Linked DNA regions of Homo sapiens. The protein of the gene in region 1 purifies or fractionates together with the protein of each later gene. This does not show direct contact. Each region holds a gene or a part of one and is shown in the gene's direction. Other genes may lie near its edges. The genes, in order: LARS2, EEA1, PDE12, CROT and GNPNAT1.

Region 1 (4,089 bases):
TTGTTTTTATACTCAGGACAGAACATCCTGCACCCTCTTAAGATTTATTAAATATTCATCTGTGGTCCAGATGCGGTGGTTCACGCCTGTAATCCCAGCACTTTGGGAGGCCAAGGCAGAGTGATCACGAGGTCAGGAGTTAGAGACCAGCCTGGCCAACACAGTGAAACGCCGTCTCTACTAAAAATACAAAAAATTAGCCGGGTGTGGTGGCGGGCGCCTGTAATCCCAGCTACTCGAGAGGCTGAGGAAGGAGAATCTCTTGAACCCGGGAGGCGGAGGTTGCAGTGAGCCGAGATTGCGCCATTGCACGATCTCATTGCGACAGTGCGACACTCTGACTCAAAAAAAAAAAAAACAAAATCCATCTGTGTTTTTATTTTTTTATGACACTTTAAAAATATTCTAATTTATTTATTTTATTTTATTTTTCTGCTTTTCAGATCCAGACCTACAGATAAAAAACATTATTTAATCTATCTGGGATTTACTCCGGCTTATGATTTGAGGTGGGGCTCTAATTTTAAGTTTTTCTCTTATTTGTTGAATAATCTATTACTATCTAATCTGCTCCTGCTTTTTTAAAAAAATGAACTTTAAATGCTTTTAAATACCCAGATCTGTTTCAGGATTCTCTAGTTCACTGGTTTATTTAAGCAAAGCAGAGGTCATTAGTAAGCCAGGTATTATGTGAACATTTTTAGAAAGCTTATTCTTGTTGTGTAGACAGACAGTGTAGGCAGAGCAGTTCAAGTCACTGTATTTTATAATTTTGTTGTGCCCTTTTGTTTCTATTTGAGAGGATAGCCCAGAACACTCCTTAGGTGTTCTTTGGGGATGCTGTCTAGGAGAGAAGTGGCAAGCATCCATCTATGTGTCCTCTGCTAAACAGGCGTTCTTTGGCTTGCAAAGGTATGAAAGTATTGACTTGGCAAGAGAACCATAAAATCTGTGACTTCTATATAATTAGGGAGTTCTAATTATAGCAACCTAAGCCCTAAAAATATATGCAATTGCCTTAAGTGTACAAAGCGTATGTATATTAGGTCAGTCATATGGAATTGCTAACATTTAACCAATTTCATATAGTTCAAATGCCTGTAATCAGATCTGTGTACTTTAAAATAGCCAAGCCCAACTAATAGAGAGATTTCTTTTTTATCTTTTTTTTTTTTTTTTTGAGATGGAGTCTTGTTTTGTCGCCCAGGCTCTGGAGTGCAGTGGCGCTCACTGCAACCTCTGCCTCCCAGGTTCAAGTTATTCCTCTGCCTCAGCCACCCTAGTAGCTAGGATTACAGATGCACGTCACCATGCCCAGCTAATTTTTGTATTTTTAGTAGAGAAGGGGTTTTGCCATGTTGGCCAGATTGGTCTCGAACTCCTGACCTCAGGTGATCCGCCTGCCTCAGCCTCCCAGAATGCTGGTGTTACAGACGTGAACCATTGCCCGTGGCCTAAGAGAGATTTTTTTTTTTAAGTCTGCACTTTATTCTATCCCTGAAGAAGCAAGAGGTGTTTAATGTAGTGAGAACTGATAATGTCAATGACTTTGGCAGACCAACTTGTAAGATGCCCACATTATGTTGCTGTCTTATGTGAGTTTGAAACTCACTGTTATAAGCCTATATTGACCTTCCTGGCAACATTTGTGTTCTAGTACCTTTGTGAAACAGGCCAAATCCTGATAGAAGTGGAATTTTGAGAGAATCAAAGAACATCAGCTTAGAGTGCCGGGTTTCTTTATTTCTCTCTGGTTTTGAAAAGATCTGTTGTCATCTGTTTTTTCACTGTAGCACTTCTTGAATGCTGTTATGCCAGAAGGAGAAAGTTTAGGCTATTTAGTCTAGTATTTATATCTTAAATATTTGATAAAAATCTCACCTCAACCCTTTGAATAGCAATAAAACATGAAACTTCTTCAGTGAGGTCATTTCCAGTATTTACCTGTGGAAGAAGCCAACGAAACATTAAAATTGGATTTTGAATCACAACTGGATATCCTGGTAGGCCCCAACCTATGAGTTGTATTTCAAAAAATAGCACTCACCGTGACCACATGTTATATATTTTTGTTTCTCATCTGCCTCCCTTATTGTTTGTTTCTTATCTGCTTCCCTGCTAGTATGTAATAAGTGCTACGAAAGAAGGGACTCTGGGCCAGGTGTGGTGGCTCACGCCTATAATCCTAGCACTTTGGGAGGCCAAGGTGGGTGGATCATGAGGTCAGCAGTTCGACACCAACCTGGCCAACATGGTGAAACCCCATCTCCACTAAAAATACGAAAATTAGCCGGGCATGTTGGTGCATGCCTATAATCCCAGCTACTCAGGAGGCTGAGGCAGGAGAATTGCTTGAACCCAGGAGGTGGAGGTTGCAGTGAGCCAAGATCATGCCATTGCACTTCAGCCTGGGCAATAGAGCGAGACTCTGTCTCAAAAAAGAAAAAAAAACAGAGAAAGAAAGAAGGGACTCTGTTTGTGTTTACTGCTATATTCCCAGTACTTAGAACAACGTGTGGGCCTAGTGGTAGTCATTAAATATTTGGTGGTGGCTCACGCCTGTAATCCCAGCACTTTGGTAGGCTAAGGCAGGTAGATCGCTTGAGCCCAGGAGTCAGAGGTTACACTGAGGTATGATTATGCCACTGCACTCCAGCCTGAGTGAAAGAGCAGGACCCTGTCTCTAAAAAGTAAGTAAATAAATAAATAAATATTTGGTAAATGAAGGAGAAACTAAATGAATTAACAGTCTTCTAAATAATGGTTATTTTCTGGTTCAGCCTACAGGGTATATTTAACTCATAATATGTATAAAAATTACTAATAGTAGTTCAGAATTTCTGGCCCTCCTGGGAGGCCTGTATTTAGACCCCTTCTGATATTTGAGCCTAACGCCAACTCAGCATGTGCTTGAGCTCTTCTGAGGCTTGAAGACATAAGAAGTGAAGCCTGCTGGAGAGTCCCTGGGCTGGCCCATGGGGAGGGGAGGGAGGGCACTCCATGCCTTCCATGCAACTTGTGAGGTTGCGCAGGAGCTGGCCAGCTGATGGTCTCCATTTTTTCCTACAGGATTTTTGCATCTTTGATGTTAGGGGTTACTGACCCTTTATATTTTCTATTAAAAAGTTTGTGTTTAGCTCAATTGAATTGCTAAAGTATTCTTTTCAGGGAAAGAAATTATTAAAAGTAAGAGGAAAGCACAGGGCCAGAACACTGGACTGTGCCAAATGGAAAGATAAGCTCTGGGGAGGGTTTGAGGCAGCTCATAGTGTGCTTTCTGCCCTCTTTTTCAGGGCCTTCTCACCTTCTGAAGAATGGCTTCTGTTTGGCAGAGATTGGGTTTTTATGCCTCTCTTCTGAAAAGACAGCTAAATGGTGGGCCAGATGTCATCAAGTGGGAAAGGAGAGTAATTCCCGGATGTACCAGAAGCATCTACAGTGCCACGGGAAAGTGGACAAAAGAGTATACATTGCAGACAAGAAAGGATGTTGAGAAATGGTGGCATCAACGAATAAAAGAACAGGCCTCCAAAATTTCAGAAGCTGATGTGAGTATTCTGAGAGATTCTAAGAGGGTAGAGAAGAGGGGTTGAAGGTTTGGACCCTGGGGTTAGACTACCTGGTTCAAATAAGATATTAAATATGTGACCTTGAACCAAATTGTTGAATTTCTCTGTGCTTCAATTCTCTTATCTGAGATGGAGAGTGATCATAATAGTGCCCACCTGCACTATTGGGAGGGGTAAATGGATTGGGAGGCATAAATGAGGTGATACAAAGGTAGTGTTTACAAGAGTTTCCAATGTGGTGGATGCACACATAGTAATATTGCGCACGAGGTGTATGACAGACAGCAGCAAACCAGGTGTTCTAGAGCAACATTTACTGGGGAAGCTCATCAAAATAGGAGCTCTACCAGATGATGGGTCCTTTGTGGTCCATTGCATGGTGGGGCAGCACACAGGGATCTGGCAGGGTCATATCTGAGACTCCAGGAGAGGCACCTGGGCTCCTCGCTGGCTACATGTTCTGAGAAGTAACTGCCCCTTCCCTGGCAATCGTAGCCTCCAACTCTGTTCTGCTGCCTTA
Region 2 (4,089 bases), on another chromosome or scaffold:
TTAGCAGTGATTCTAAATATTCATTTCATTTGTAGTGTATGTTTGTAAATTATGATTTGTACCTTAAGTGAAGCAGATATACTTAATTTCTTGAAGTGTCAAAATACTACTTGTAATTGGATAATAAACTTAAGTTGATCATCTTTACAACTGTAATAAATATAAGTAATAACAATTTAGCATATGTAATTAACATGGTATTTGAATAACTGCGACACTTTTTTGTAGAACTACAGTCTTTGGAACAGCAATTAGAAGAAGCCCAAACAGAAAATTTTAATATTAAGCAAATGAAAGACTTATTTGAACAGAAAGCAGCCCAACTTGCTACTGAAATTGCAGGTAAATTGAGTTAGAATTTTTTAGCCAATAAATCAATCTCATTACCTTTTTGCCATTATATACCCTAGCAATAAATATAGTATTTTAGTGTGTTAAAGCATTTGTGATAGACTTCCAATGGTGATTAATGGAATTTAATGATTTCAGAGTTGCTATGTAAATTATTTTGTTTGTCCTCTAGCTGCCTGCCTTCAAAGGACTGGTGTTTCTTTGTAGATTCTTCTTGAAATTTAGAGAAGATACATTTTCTTCTGTGGCATGCTTAAAGATTAAAAAGGAACATTTTAAAGAAGTGAAGTAAATAATGTAGTATAAATGTAACACTTGGTTATACTATTACATATATATGTTTTTAACATGTGCTTTTAGGTAAAATATGTGATTAAGTACATTAAAATGCTAATTATTAACTTAATGTTGAGTGGAATTTATGTAGACAGTTAATTTTAAGTTCATTTCATGTAATTAGAAGTATAAATTTACTGTATATATTTATGGTTATCTAAGGAATGTGAATTTGAATTAGAGTGATATACAGATATGCAGAGTAATATATGGAAACTTATAAAACTGTCCTCCCCTTAAACTAATATTTATATAACTATCTTTAATTAGATATAAAGTCAAAGTATGATGAAGAAAGGAGTCTTCGAGAAGCTGCTGAACAAAAAGTGACACGTCTGACAGAAGAATTAAACAAAGAGGCAACTGTAATTCAAGATCTGAAGACGGAACTGGTAATTTAGGAATTATTTATTGAGATGTACTCTTATACCTTTCTAAATTAAAAATAAAATACATACCCTGAAGGAAAATGTTTAAAAATATAATTTGAGTGAAATCAGGAAATAAGCAATTCCCTATATTCTACCACCTGCATATATATTCTGTATATGATTTTTAAAATAAAAATGGAATGTTATGATACGTAACTTACTACCTTAACATTTTTGTTGTTTCTATCTAAATATCATCTGTCATTTTAGTAGTTTTCATATCTGCATCTCTGATCCTGGTCTTCTCTTGCATGTTTGTTTTATAAATCCATCTGCTTTTAGGGTACTTTGTGTTGAATTTCTAGCTTTAATTTCAAATTCAACAAGTATAAAATCAAAGTAATCATGTTTCCTCATTACTGTATTTCTGTTATTGGAACCATACATCTCTAATACTCTCCCAAGACTTAATAATCTTGGATCTGTCCTTGACTTTCTTTCCTTTATTTAGCTCTCAATAAATATATAAATTAACTACATCCAACCTGGAGCAAACTCTATGCTTTCATTTGCTCCTTCATTTTTATTACCAGTTTTGTAGGATAGAAAAAGAAGGAATGTAGCATTTTCAAGTCACTGTTATGACCAATAGATGTAGTTTGTGAAGGGAAGGAAAACAAATAAAGTAGTAAAGATAATTGTGAATTTACTATACAGCACCTTGAGTATTAATACTATTAAATATGAGGTAGGATGGGAAGAGGAAGTGGCTTATTGTGGGAGAAGATATCAGTGTTCAATGTTTGAAGTCTAAAAATTGATATTGATGATTGTTTCCCTTTTGATTCCTTTGTAGTGAAATGATTCTAAAAATGTGTATTATTTTAGTTTTTCACTTTAATTTTTAATTAAAATGTGTTGTTTCACAGCTTCAGAGACCTGGTATAGAAGATGTTGCCGTGCTAAAGAAAGAACTGGTCCAAGTTCAAACACTAATGGATAACATGACCTTGGAACGTGAGCGAGAATCTGAAAAACTCAAAGATGAATGCAAAAAATTGCAGTCACAATATGCTAGCTCAGAGGTAATGAAGTTCATTGTACTTAAATGTGATTCATATTAGCTTGTGTAGTGTATACTATTGAGTGAAGCCAGGATTTGAGATTTTTCTGAGTGGCCTATCAAAATATTTGTCTTTCTTTCATTTTTGATCTGAATAATATTTGTTTATAGTCAATGTGGTCTCTCAGTATGTTTTGCTTTATAAAGCTAGACACTCAGGAATATTTGCATAAAGATTATTATTCTGTTTAATATATATATTGTTGACATGATATTTAAGGTTAAATTTACTCAAGGTTGGTTGATAAATGGTAATTGACTTTAAAGGAAGAATGATAGCATTTTCTACAATTATATTACCAATTTTGTTTAGAAAATATATTTAAGAAAGGCTTATTTTGTAATAAGCTTATTTCTTTTTTTTTTTTTTTTTTTTTTTTTTTGAGACAAAGTCTTGCTCTGTCACCCAGGCTGGAGTGCAGTGGCGTGATCTCAGCTCACTGCAACATCCACCTCCCGGGTTCAAGTGATTCTTCTGCCTCAGCCTCCCAAGTAGCTGGGATTACAGGTGCCTGCCACCACGCTTGGCTAATTTTTGTATTTTTAGTAGAGATGGGGCTTCACCATGTTGGCCAGGCTGGTCTCGAACTCCTGACCTCAGACGGTCTGCCTGTCTTGGCTTCCCAAAGTGTTGGGATTACAGGCGTGAGCCACTGCACCCGGCCATAAGCTTATTTCTAATTGATGGACTTTGAATTATGAATTTGAAAGAAGTCTTGAACTAGTCTAAATTCAGTCCAGAACTTCCCTTTATGCCAACCCTGCTAAGTGATCCACAATCCTTGCTAGGTGGTGTACGGTGTGCATATTTCTTCCTAAGTCTATTTTATTGAGCTGACATTTGTTTCCCTGTAATTTACATGCGCTGGTTCTGGTTCTGTCCTTAGGAATTACACAGAATAAATTGTTCCTCTTTCCACATGAGGTATTTGAAGACTGCTCATATTTATTCGGAGTATTTCTCTTCCAAGATAAACATTTTCAGTTCTTCTACTATTTCTTACATGACATGACTTTGGCCTGTAAATCCCTTGTATAATATGTCAGCATTTAATAAACTCTAAGATGTATAATACATAAATGTGCTTAAAAATCCTAGCCTTTGTCCTTTTTACTTTATTATAGGAGACATTTTGTTATGACTACTGTTATTTGTAGTCTTTAAGCTCCCTTATGTAAAGTAGACCTCTGATTTTCATATTTTCAGTTTAAAAAGTTGTTACCGTAACATTTTAATTTGAATCTCTTCCTTAGAGTTTTGTAACTGGTGATCTAAAAGCCACTCTATTCACAAATATAACATGTCATCAAGCTTTGGGGTATAAGTATTATAGATAACCCATGTCTAATTCATTTTTAAAAATCTTTCTTTATCTTATGGGAAGAGATGGTGAAAGTTTGTGGATATAACACACATAGGCATGTAAGGCCTTATGATGCCTAACACTACACTCTCTAACTTATGATATTTGGATGCAGTTTTTCCAAAATTGACACTTTGTAGCCCAATAACACTTAATTCCAAAAATTTTCAAACAATTTCAGGTGGTTCATGAACTTACTGAAGCCAGTTAAAAGCTCTTGTCCTACTGGTATTATTAATCAGCAGAAGACAATGATAAATCTATAAGTACAAATGTGAAATCAAGGAGAGGCTGAATCAAAGAAGTCTCATGAGGAAAAGTGCTATTCAGATGTTAATGTCAAAATACCTAAACCAGGGTGAACCCAGTCATTTATTTCTTTGTATCAGTAAGAACTATTTTTGTTTAGATATGTCTGCCTATTGGTATTTCTCAAATTAAAAAAAAATACACTCCCTTTTGATTAAAAAATATCTTAAATGCTATTTGAAATTTTAAAATAAATGTATTATGGTGACTAAAACAGAACCAAATTAATGTCAGT
Region 3 (4,089 bases), about 12 Mb from region 1:
TTTCATGACTGCAGTCCTAGTTCATCAAGGGAAGGAGATGGAAGAAAACGTTAGTTCGCCATTAGTCTTAGATAAAAAACAGGCCGGGCCTGGTGGCTTATGCCTGTAATCCCAGCACTTTGGGAGGCCGAGGCGGGTGGATCACAAGTCAGGAAATCGAGACCATCCTGGCTAACACGATGAAACCCCGTCTCTACTACAAATACAAAAAAATTAGCCGGGCGTGGTGGCACGCGCCTGTAGTCCCAGCTACTCCGGAGGCAGAGGCAGGGGAATCGCTTGAACCCGGGAGGCGGAGCTTGCAGTGAGCCGAGATCGCGCTACTGCACTCCAGCCTGGTTGACAGAGTGAGACTGTCTCGAAAAAACTCAAAAAAACAAACAAACAAACAAAAACATTCAGGAGATTTGCAAATGCCAACTGAACTCTTGGCACTTTCCGTTTATTTTAGGTTTCAGTTCTTCAGTCTACAAAGGACTCTTCTAAAAGGATATGTGTTGCTAATACCCATCTTTACTGGCATCCTAAAGGTAGGTTTTATTTGGTATCACAAGTGACTTAAACACGCTTAAAGTTGTTTAAAGTGTTTTACACAAATGCATATCTTGAACGTCACCCAGAGACTGTAATTTGTGTAGTTTTTCTTTTTTAACTTAAAGACAACTTTAAAAAATACTTACATTAATGTTTTTTATATTCATAGGTGGGTATATTCGCCTCATTCAAATGGCAGTAGCCTTGGCTCACATAAGACATGTTTCATGTGATCTGTATCCTGGCATACCAGTTATATTTTGTGGGGACTTTAATAGTACACCATCAACAGGAATGTATCATTTTGTCATCAATGGCAGCATTCCAGAGGATCATGAAGACTGGGCTTCCAATGGGGAGGAGGAAAGATGCAATATGTCTCTTACACATTTCTTCAAGCTGAAAAGTGCTTGTGGTGAACCTGCTTACACAAATTATGTTGGTGGCTTTCATGGATGTCTAGATTACATTTTCATTGACTTAAATGCTTTAGAGGTTGAACAGGTGATTCCATTACCTAGTCATGAAGAAGTTACCACCCACCAGGCCTTACCTAGTGTTTCCCATCCCTCTGATCACATAGCACTTGTATGTGATTTAAAATGGAAATAGATGTGTGTTTAATGGAATTGAAGTCTGAAAAGGAAGTAGTTATTTTAGCAGAAAATTTAATATGAATCAAAGCTTATATGTAAACTTCAAGGAGGAATGGTAAAATGTTCAGCCCTCCTAGTTATGTTCCTGATGTCTTCGTTATGAAACTGTTGATGTTTGCATCATACATCTTCTCTTTCCTTGTTTTCCTCTACAATTGGAGGAGAAACAAATATATTTCTTACTAGCAAAATAGAAAATTGAATTATTTTTCTCCAAATTGAGACTCTCAGAAAAGGAAGATTGAATTAGCGTGTTTTTTGTTTGTTTGTTTTTGTTTTTGTTTTTGTTTTTTTGAGATGGAGTTTCACTCTTGTTGCCCAGGCTGGAGTGCAATGGCACAATCTCGGCTCACTGCAACCTCCGCCCCCTGGGTTTAAGCGATTCTCCTGCCTCAGCTTCCCGAGTAGCTGGGATTACAGGCGTGCGCCAACATGTCTGGCTAATTTTTGTATTTTTAGTAGAAATGGGGTTTCGCCACGTTGGCCAGGCTGGTCTTGAACTCCTGACCTCAGGTGATCCACCCACCTCGGCCTCCCAAAGTGTTGGGATTACAGGCGTGAGCCACCGCACCCGGCCCTTGTGTACATTTTTATAAGAGAATTTTTTTAGCTAGGAGTTCAGAATTTTTAAAGTACCATTTGAATGATCTTAATTTTTCTTTCATGACAACACATTCCAAAATGAATCATGCTTATGTACTAAGAGGGAAAATGTATTTAAGTTAAGGGTGAGAGACTTAAGTTATAGGTGACCTTAGAGACCTAAGGTGAGAGACTTGACACATGGAAGGAGTAACATTAGGGTCTACCTCTACCTCAATTTAGTTAGCGATTTACTACAATTTCAGAGCTTTAACAAAAGATAAAAATAAATCGTCACCAATTGTTATTGCTTCTCATCTTTCATTTTTCAATGAACAAGTAAGGTATTTTCATTCTTATTTTTAGGATTTTAGTTTTTAGTGTATGGTACAAATGAACACAGTTTATATTCTAATTCTTACTGCAGCTCATTTTAATTTTTAGGATGCAAGCACAATTTAGTATTCAAAGTGAGTAGCAACATATTCAACTTGATCCCATTGTCTTCAGTTACTCTTGCCCATGAAAAATGTTCATAAATGAACAGGGTATTTGACCATATGATATTAGAAAATACAGCACATTACTTTATGAGAAACTACCTACTGATATGGGCTTGAAATTTTGGATGAATCATTGAGCATTTCTACACTAGAAGTAATTTCAAAATTGTTGGTTTTTATAAACAGGAAAAAGGTTGAGTAGTGGGACTTTTAAGCATCTCTGAAATAAAAAACTTCTTTTTACAGACAAGCATTATAGTTTGAGTTACAGACAACAGTGTGTATATATGTAATATATATATAGTAAAATGAAATTTAAATATGAAGCCAAACTTTTTAAAATTAGAAACTACAAATGGTTATACTGATTAGTGTCTAGCCTAGAGTGGTAACCATGCTTTACTAATTCAGTTATGAAATACATTATTTATAATGCATTAGCTGTATTAGCTGTTGCTTTTTTGATGTTCAGGATAACTATGTTATCTCATTTCTGCATTTAATTAATAGCTCGAGTATTAAAAGCCCACTCCCTTCAAGAAAAGCTTTGATTTTCCCCAGTCATGAAAGCCCTTGTTTCAAATTCTTTAATCTCTGAACCTAGTATCATAAGAATTTCCTCTTTTGATAACATCTGTACTTTCATATTCTGCTCACTATCAAATGTATTGTTAACACTTAGTAAGTTTGAAAATGAAGGGGTTTTATCTGCATTTGACATTGAACCTTGAAGTACTTTAAGTACTCCAAGGGGAAAATTAAAGTGGAAGTTTCTTCGGATCTTGTTTAGAAAAAACTATAAATAAAAAATTGATGCTACCAAATTGTGCCTTCCTAAATAACATTTTTGAGAGCATTTTAACAGCAGTTTACAAATATGTAAATAATAGATTAAAACCAAATCTTGATTCTCTTGTGAATTTTTTTTTCATTTTAAAAATATGTTTTTGGGCTGTTTTCAAAGAAAGATGTTGATAGAACCCTTAGAGTGACTTGGGAGAAAACAAAGTGTCACATCAAAAAGTTGAGAAACATTTTGAAAGAAAAAATTCGAACATGCCCATGAAAAAAGCATACAGCTTCCACATTAACACTGGCTAGATTAAACTCTAGTCAGAAAAACTCAGCACTTAACAGACATTCCATGTCCTATATCCTTAATTTTGATGTTTTCTGACTAAACAATATACTCAGATTGTATACAGGCATTTCACATTATTAGGACATGGAATGTTATTGTGAAGTGCCATATACTGTGATCAAATCTCCAGTATACGGATACGTTAAAATGATTGGAGTCCAAAGGTAGGGAACACTAAGAAAATGTATAAATAGCATACACATTTCTTTGTACTCATGAGTTAGAATGCAGTGTTATTCAGAAATGTCTGTTTAAAGCACCTATGTGATTGCATTTTTCTATTACATTTGGATTTTTTAGTACATTTAATTTTAAGAAAACATGGGAAATCTAGCGACTTTCTATGGTAAACCACATTTTATAATGTCACAAGTTCTTGCTATAGGAATTAACATTCTAGAATTTTATATTGATTATAAAAGAGTATTTCAGAACATATTATTCTGTTAAAATGAACTCTTGCACAGTTGCCGCTACAGCAAATGTGTCTGCCAATAATCAAAATTCATGAGCAAACAATCGTTTCTGGCTGTAATGTATGTTCTTTTTGAAATTCTGTATGCTAAAATCAGTTGTTTCAAAATTTCAAGAATTCCACTGAGTAGTGATTTTTCTGAGTACTAAGCTATGATCTCATCAGAATGTGCTGGTTTCAGTCTGGAGATAGATTTCT
Region 4 (4,553 bases), on another chromosome or scaffold:
AGTATAACATATTTTAAAAGATTTTTTTCTACATACTCAAATCTGTGTTCCATTCATTTTTTCACTCCCACACCTTTTTGTCTATCCGATAATTCAGGAATCTTTACAGAAACATCTTGTTTCCATTGAAATAAACAACAAGAGTAGGAAAAAGAGTGAAGCGAAATGGTTCTAAATTCTATGCACCAACAGGCATTAAACATGCATAAACTTTTAAAGAGATGCCAAGACTCACTAAAAAGGAGAAAAAAAATACAACGAAGGTTTCTGAGTAGTTTTTAGTTACTCAATTTAAAAACTTTATCTTGTAAGCAAACTTTAACATCATCCAGAGCATCGCACTTATATATGAAAGAAAAAGTTCTTTATCACACCTTCAGAAATTACAACTACAAATTCCTAATCCCTTATTTAAAATCTTTTTGGCTAGATATGTTTCAAAATTCAGAACTTTTCTTAGAATAGTACGTCTGCCATATATTATGAAACACTTCCAGCAAGCTGTACTGTAATCAAACACAATATTTCTGTAGAAAACTTATGAATATTTACACAAAGGGAACATTCAGTTACACATAGCCTCACTTCCCTTCAGGTCAAACTTTACTGCTAAAGGAGTTAGAAACGACAGACAAAGGAATGGGGCCTGTCATGACATGTTAATTTGAAATCTAAATCTTTATCTTTGATAACTAGTTCAGAGTCAGTGTAAACATTTGGTCTTTCCTTCCACAAAAAAATGAAACAGTGTATTTAAAATTAAAAATGAAACAGTATATTTTATTTCAGAAGGTAAAAGCAAAATGAATTAATCTGTGAAACTAAGTCAATCACATTATGATCTTCTAGAACTTGGGTAGCTCCACTCTGGTTAAAGATTCCATTTCTTGGCACAACAGTAAAAGACATCAGATAGGCCCGGGGGTAAGCATCCCTGGGGTATTCAAATAACTTGGGTAGCAATGAAGAGCTGCAGAAGAGCAAGGAGACCCGAGATGATGTAGTGTGCTGCGGCATACCTGAGTTGGGCAAACTCAGCCTCCGAAGATTAAAGGAAAGAGCCCAAGTAGGAATCTGTGTGATCACTGTTCTTTTGCCAAGACACGGGGTGGACAATAAGATTCCTTTACAAAGCACTGGTGTAAGTGTTCGCCTGGTGCTGCAAAAAGCGGCTCACTGGGAATGGGGAGGAGCGTGTGGTAAGCCAGACCTGCGGCGAGAAGTTGGGTGAAAATGGGTCTTAACCATCGCTTCCTGCATCTATCCCAGAGGGTTGGGTACCTTCGTGGGCGGAGCGCGGCCTGCCCAGAGTGCCTTCTAGATCCTGGGTCAGGCGCCAAGCTCCCCAGCATCATGCAGGAAGCTGCAGCCCCGCAGAGTTAGGACAGCTCATTTGGCACCCGGCGAGCCCTTCCCAGGCCCGCAGCCCAGAATAGAGCCGGGGCCCAAGACGCCCACTGGAGACAGGGTCGGGTCCCACTACCGCGCAGGCCCGGCTCGCCCCCGACGTCAGGCACGGGGCGGGACCCTTGCAGCTGTCCGTCCAGTCCCGTTCCCCGGAAAGTGAGGGGCGGGACCCTCGCGGCTTTCTATCCAATCCTGTTCCCCGGCGAATGCGGGGCGGGACCCTAGCGGCCTTCAGTCCAATTCCCGCACCTTTGAGGCCCAAGGGGGAGCGAGCCGGTGCTGCTGCAGGCTGAGGCTGCGGCAGAGGCGGCGAGGCGCGGGCGGTGAGGACGGACAGGTCCGTTGAAGCAGCATTCCCTCCCTCCCCTAATCCTTCAACTCGGGGGCGGGGGAAAGTTAAGTCGTGCAGAACCGCAAAGGTGCCTGGATTTGGTGGGGGAGTAGTGTCATCAAGCATCTCGCCTGCTGGGGTCTCAGGGGTACCCTCAAGGTTGGGCCGCGGGGCTGCTCCGTTGTAGTGCTTAGATTTCTCTCACTTGATGGCCTCTTGAGTGCAGAGTTGCTCTTGGGTTGGTGGGAAGAGCCTCCGAGCTCTCATTGCCCTCTGCTCCTGCTTCTACCCCTTGCCACTCTGCGACGAACCTGTTACCCAGCCACTGAAAACGTATCCTCTACCCTTTGAACCCGTCTAATGGAAGGTGTACTTGTCTGAAACCTACTTAATTGTATGATCATTTACTCCTGCTCTCTAGCAGGTGGACTATTTGCGTGTGTTTGCAGTGATTCACGAAAAGTTTGTCTTGGGAACTCCCAACTCCTAGTTTGTCTGCATTCCACCTTCTTTCACTAGCTTGTTCATTTCTTTTTCCCTCTTAAATATTTGTTAAGCTTGTTTCTTTCTTCCCACAGTCACCGACTTAGTCCAGTTCCCTGTGATCTCAAAACAATTGTTGCAGCAGGCTCCTGGCAGTCTCAAGCAGTTCATCTTCTTGGTGTACTGGTATGTGACAATTCCTTCACGTATTGTTCGTGGTTCTTTTCCACTTTCTGTGAATTCATATCTAATTGCCCCCAGAAAGTCAATTCTAATTAAATCTAGCATAATCATTTTCTTAGTGCTATTGGAACCATCTTATTTAACTTAATCTTTGTGGTTGAGAATTCAAGAAAACTCTTCAAGAAAGAATCCAATAATTTATATTTTTAATGTGTACCGGTTGGTGGGTTAAGCACTATAGTGGGTATGTAACTAATACTCTTGCTTCCAGTTTTCTAGAGTCTATTAAGTGGCACAGAGGTAAACAGAATAGCTTATCTTCTCTGTATGTGTGTACTAGTCTTCTATTGCTGCCTTAACCAATTACACAAATGCAACAATTAAAACAACACAAATGTATTATCTCATAGCTTCTGTAAATGTGAAGTTTGGGTGGGCTTAGCTGAGTACTTGGCTTAGAATTTCACAAAACCGAAACCAAGGTTTCTGTAGATTTGGATTCTTTTCTGGAGGCTCTAGGGGAGAATCCACCTCCAGGCTATTTCAGATTGTTGGTAGAATTCACACTGACATTTCTATATCCTTACTGTTTGTCAGCCTGAGCCTCTTTCAGTTCTTTAAGGCCATCTGCATCTTCAAAGACACCACAAATCCTTCTCAAGCATTAAAGCAGTCTTACTTGTCTGCCACTGGCCAGAGAAAGCTCTTTGCTCTTATGGACTCAAGTGATTAGATTAGTTCCAATTCGATAATATCCCTATTTTAAGGTCAGTTCTGTAGAGAATATCACAATCACAGGAGTAATGATCTCACCATATTCGCAGGTTCTGGGGATTAGCAGGGGTGGAATCTTGGGGGCCATTCATAGTAATTGTGCCTACCACAATATGGTGGTTTCAGGCAGGATTATTTTGTTTTTATAATGTGCTTTCACAGGCATTGAAAACAAATTCTGACTTTATTGAATTGTATGATTAACCACTCTAAGATAAGGAAATTCACTTAAAGTTGGTTGCCCTAGGGGCACATGGCTAGAAAGTGGCAGAGTCTGTACTTGGATCCAGATCTACATTTCCATTAGGTACAAACCCATTTTTATGGATGGTCAAAATGGTGTGCAGCCAAAGTCAATAGATAGAAAGAAGCTAAAGAACTTTGAGTTAATTATTATTTCTCATTTTCAAATTATCTCTTTATATTAGTGGTACAGGCTAAGCTCTTCTCCCTACAATAGAAAGCCCAAAATACAATGGTATGAATAAAATAGAAGTTTTTTTTTTTCCATACATCTAGAGGTAGGAGTCCAGGACTAGTAGGGAGATTCTGCAATCCTGCATATATGACTTCCATAAATGAGGCCATGGTGCTGTTTAGTTCGTCACTACCTAGCAGGTAGTAAAAAGGAGGGAAAGTGCAGGGAGAACACATGCATTCCTTTTTGGGAGCATGACCTGGAAGTGACACACACAAGGTCATCACAAAGCCACACTGAGCTCCAAGAGAGGGTAGGAAAGATAAAACTGGGGGCTGTATGCACAGCTACAACTCAGGATTCTGTTAAAGCAGAGGAAAACAGGTATTAGCTGAAAATAGTCTCTTCTGTGTCCATGTTTTTGATAGTGTTCGATTCTGTAACCTATGAGTGGAATACTTTGTTTAGCGTTGCTATCAGTTTTAAAAAATAGTTTTTGAGAGAATAGGAAGTTCAAATTCAATATTAACGTTCTTTGATTTCTCAGTTGCTATTTTAACATATAATTACATTTAATATATTACATTATTTAATATAATTAATATATGATAATTTACAAAGGCTTTGAGAAACCTCATTTTTTATTTAGCATTTGTATACCTTATTCACATTTTGAGTTAGATTTCTTTGATAGCAATTAATACACGTGTCAATATGTTCAAGATTGCTTTGGAACACTTGAGACCATTCTGTGTAGACCTCATACGACCTGTGCAATTAAAGCAGCTTGTCATATGATTTATGTATTCTATAATAATCTTTAATTCTACAGTTGGACACTTCCACACCTCTTTGTACTTTGTGCTCCAAAGTTTTCTATATCAATGCAATATCAACACATAATCCTTTTCTATACATCAAATACTATCTACCCACTAAGATTTACTGCAGGTTCCC
Region 5 (4,046 bases), on another chromosome or scaffold:
CAACATCAGCCATTTACTTGTATTTTAAGTGTTGTTCATCTAAAATAGCTATATTAGTCTTTATTTTGCTAGCAGATATTTTGAATGTGTAGGTTATATTCCAATTGATACTAATTGCTGATATTTCAACTACTTGGTAATATTTTCTTTAGAAATGGAAGGTAAATTACTATGGTAAAACAGCTTTAAACATTTAGTAATTAAGTCAGCTAATCCTAATATTTTTCTGGCTCCCCATAAAATTGAATGTCTACTATGTAACACTTTGTTATCCAATTTCCACAGAATCTTTTGAGCATATGAAGAAATCTGGGGATTATTATGTTACAGTTGTAGAAGATGTGACTCTAGGACAGATTGTTGCTACGGCAACTCTGATTATAGAACATAAATTCATCCATTCCTGTGCTAAGGTATGTGCTGCTTATAAATAAAATGGACAGCTGTTTTCTAGCACAACTGACTTTGAGTTTCCATTAGACAAATCTGTTTTCTCATTGATTTTCAGTGCCTCTTAGAAATCCCTTTTCCCAGTGTGTTCTGAGAGCTTTAAGAAAGAAAATGTATAACAGTATGAATTGTATGCTAAAATTGTTCTGTAAGGTGGATCAATTTGGTATAGGCATAGAGAAACCAAACAACTTAGCAGTAATGCACAAAATCCCTAATGTTACTCTTTTAAAAAAAACAACTCTGAATATACCACGTTAGCATAAATTTGTTTCCACATGGTAAAGGGTTCAGATTATTCCGTTCTAATTATGATACATCTAATGCATGTAGTGCCCTTTCATCCCTCAATAACTCACATAAAATAGTAAATAAAAAAAGAGGGAGAGAAAACCTTAATTCAATGAGAATAAGGTAGGAACACTTGGGATGTGTTCTGTCACACTTAGGAATTTCGGTGGGGTTTCTGTACTAGACATTAATTTTATTTGGATATCTAAAATAACTTGCTAGTAAGCAAGGAGTAGAATGATGGATATATTCATGAAAAGGTTACATTTTGGTGATGTTGATCCTGATATTTGTTTAAAGACAATGGGGTGGGAAGGTTGGGGACATAGCCAAAACAAGTTTAGGTCACAACTTGACTCATACTATTTCCTCTAATAAGTAAAAACATCTTTAAATTATTAACTTTTAATAGTAGTACTCTCATACTAGTAGGAAACAAACTTTTGGGCTAATCAGATTTGCCCCAGCTTCTCTGTCATATTTAAAAACAAAGGAAATGTTCAGCTATTACAGAATATTCTATGATCTCTCCTTCTCATAAGTTGTAGAAATACATACTGAAACAGCCTTCACTGTATAATATTTTTTGCATTTGATTTCTGTTAAGTTCAAGTTTACAAAATATACTACTTATTATCAGTAAATTCTTACCAACTCGTTTTAGCTAAAAACAAAAGTAAATGCTTACTCCTTTAAACATTGTAAATATTTTCAGAGAGGAAGAGTAGAAGATGTTGTTGTTAGTGATGAATGCAGAGGAAAGCAGCTTGGCAAATTGTAAGTAGGCAGAAACAAGGTAACCCTGGATAAATTTTGTTCCAATTTAGTTTCTTAACAAGATACTTGTTTGAAGTTCTTTTTGGCTTCATTAATTCTGAACTTATTCTCACTCTAATAGTTTAGACTGAATTTCATGAAGAAATAAAGTATTATTATACATATTTTGCCTTAAAGTTTGAAAATTGGAAGCATACTTCTTTACAGACAGTAACATCTTTAAATTACTAACTTTTTATAGTAATGCTCTCGTCCTAGTAGGAGATAAACTTTTGGGCTAATCGGATTTGCCTCAGCTTCTCTGTCATATTTAAAAACAAAGGAAATGTTCAACTATTACAGAATATTCTGTGATCTCTCATTCTCATAAGTTGTAGAAATACATACTGAAACAGCCTTCACTGTATATATCTAAATCATTTAAAATAAATATAAATAAGTGGTATTGATTTATTGCCATTTTATAAGAACTTGTAGTTCTTATTTATTATAATTTTTAGTTTTTGAGACAGGGTCTGTTTTTGACAGCTCTGTCACCCAGGCTGAGGTGCAGTGGCTCAATCTCAGCTCACTGCAGCCTCAGCCTCCTGGGCTCAAGCAATCCTCTTCAGCCCCCCAATTAGCTGGGACTACAGGTACACGCCACACCTGGCTAATTTTTAAAAATTTGTAGAGATGGGGCCTCATCATGTTGCTCAGGCTGGTCTCAAACAGTGCTCCTGCCTTGGCCTCCCAAAGTGCTGGGATTACAGGTGGGAGCCACTGTGCCTGGCCCAAGAACTTGCTTTTTAACACTAACTCTTCTGAGTTTTAAGGAATTAACAAATATTAAATACCTGCTTATGTACCAGATGCTATTCTAGGTATTTGGAATACCTCAGTGAACAAAACAGACCGATTTCTTGTGTTCTAGTCTATATAATTTATGTTTTTTTTTTTTTTTTTTTTTTTTTTAAGAGATGGGATCTCTTTCTGTTGCCCAGGCTGGAGTATACAGTGGTACGATCACAGCTCACTGCAGCCTTGAATTTCTGGGGCTCAAGTGAGCCTCTCGCCTCAGCCTCCCAAGTAGCTGGGACTACAGGTGCATGCCGCTGCACCCAGCTAATTTTTTATAGAGATAGGGTTTTGCTATGTTGCTTTGGCTAGTCTCGAACTTCTGGACTCAAGTGATCCTTGGCCTCCTAAAGTGCTGGAATTACAGGCATGAGCCACTGCAACCAGCCAGGCATACTTCAGTCAAGGTCTTTTGTTTTTTTTAAAAATAGGATTTTTTAGTCTGTTCAAACATGGGCAGACCCTTCAAGTTTGTATATCTTTTATAGTTTTTATCCTCTAAGGCACTTAGATCCACACTTTAATACTGGGTTTGGATTCATTAAGAAATTTTGTATAGATGTAGACTTGCTTTGTTTCCACTTCATATTAATTAGACCAATCTTGAGTTAATCTGATACACACCTTCACAAATATTAAAGTAGCTTTAAAAATGATTAAAGAGCAAAGCTATTATGTACTCATTTTATGTGGGTATGTCGACTGCTCCGAAGTTGTTTAAATAGATTTAAATAAAGAATTTTTACAAAATAATTTTGGTCATTTTTTTTTTTAAAGGTTGAGTTTTTAGTGTTAACATGCATCTTAAAATTCGTTTTTCTTTTTCAAGACAGAGACTCACTCTGTTGCCCAGGCTGGAGTGCAGTGGCACAATCACTACTCACCGCAGCCTTGACCTCTCTGGGCTCAGGTGATCTTCCCCCCTCAGCCTCTGGAGTAGCTGCGACTTTAGGCATGTGCCATCATGCCCTACTAATTTTTATATTTTGTAGAGATGGGGTTTTGCCGTGTTTCCCAGGCTGGTGTCAAACCCCTGGGCTCTAGCGATCGCCTGCCTCGGCTTCCCAGAGTGCTAGGATTACAGGTATGAGTCACTGCACCTAGCCTTAAATTTCATTTTTAAAGAGGGCTTAGGGTGAGTTTTGTATTTGTCCTGTTTATTAGTGAGCTGGAGATTACTAGATAAAAGTATATTTGACTCTAAGTAAAAATGCTTTGGTGATTTAAATGCTTATCAACTTACATGAATGCAGTGGGAAAAGCCATAATCTAAACCTGTTTCTAAGGAAACTTAAGTTTTATAACATTAATTCATATTGTTACTAGAATCAATTTTTATTAATAAATGCTATCTCCTCACCCTACCCCCTTTTTAAATTTCAGGTTATTATCAACCCTTACTTTGCTAAGCAAGAAACTGAACTGTTACAAGATTACCCTTGAATGTCTACCACAAAATGTTGGTTTCTATAAAAAGTTTGGATATACTGTATCTGAAGAAAACTACATGTGTCGGAGGTTTCTAAAGTAAAAATCTTGTAAGAAAATTGTCAAAGGGGCTAATGCTACAAGGCTACACTCTTCCTAGAGTTGAAATATTTTGTTGCTGCAGCCGAGTGACCTCCATAAATACTGGACTGAAAAAACATTGTAATACTACAAGTATAATGACATTTAGAAGATTACTTTGG

Evidence for each region.
Region 2: the proteins of LARS2 (region 1) and EEA1 purify together in Homo sapiens (co-immunoprecipitation; one large-scale study listed by IntAct). This does not show direct contact.
Region 3: the proteins of LARS2 (region 1) and PDE12 purify together in Homo sapiens (co-immunoprecipitation; one large-scale study listed by IntAct). This does not show direct contact.
Region 4: the proteins of LARS2 (region 1) and CROT fractionate together in Homo sapiens (co-fractionation; one large-scale study listed by BioGRID). This does not show direct contact.
Region 5: the proteins of LARS2 (region 1) and GNPNAT1 purify together in Homo sapiens (co-immunoprecipitation; one large-scale study listed by IntAct). This does not show direct contact.

The regions. Positions count from the first base shown.
Region 1 is NC_000003.12:45,391,140-45,395,228, forward strand, and holds part of LARS2 (leucine--tRNA ligase, mitochondrial), read left to right. Parts: intron 1-443; 5' UTR 444-509; intron 510-3,293; 5' UTR 3,294-3,314; coding exon 3,315-3,548; intron 3,549-4,089.
Region 2 is NC_000012.12:92,849,165-92,853,253, reverse strand, and holds part of EEA1 (early endosome antigen 1), read left to right. Parts: intron 1-228; coding exon 229-342; intron 343-957; coding exon 958-1,079; intron 1,080-1,987; coding exon 1,988-2,143; intron 2,144-4,089. UniProt on the Homo sapiens protein: Binds phospholipid vesicles containing phosphatidylinositol 3-phosphate and participates in endosomal trafficking.
Region 3 is NC_000003.12:57,558,859-57,562,947, forward strand, and holds part of PDE12 (2',5'-phosphodiesterase 12 isoform 1 precursor), read left to right. Parts: intron 1-451; coding exon 452-530; coding exon of another isoform or gene 531-562; exon of another isoform or gene 563-703; coding exon 704-1,146; 3' UTR 1,147-4,089. UniProt on the Homo sapiens protein: Enzyme that cleaves 2',5'-phosphodiester bond linking adenosines of the 5'-triphosphorylated oligoadenylates, triphosphorylated oligoadenylates referred as 2-5A modulates the 2-5A system. Degrades triphosphorylated 2-5A to produce AMP and ATP.
Region 4 is NC_000007.14:87,344,024-87,348,576, forward strand, and holds the start of CROT (peroxisomal carnitine O-octanoyltransferase), read left to right. Parts: upstream 1-1,640; 5' UTR 1,641-1,744; intron 1,745-2,316; 5' UTR 2,317-2,407; intron 2,408-4,553. UniProt on the Homo sapiens protein: Beta-oxidation of fatty acids. The highest activity concerns the C6 to C10 chain length substrate. Converts the end product of pristanic acid beta oxidation, 4,8-dimethylnonanoyl-CoA, to its corresponding carnitine ester.
Region 5 is NC_000014.9:52,778,151-52,782,196, reverse strand, and holds part of GNPNAT1 (glucosamine 6-phosphate N-acetyltransferase), read left to right. Parts: intron 1-285; coding exon 286-413; intron 414-1,456; coding exon 1,457-1,518; intron 1,519-3,738; coding exon 3,739-3,886; 3' UTR 3,887-4,046.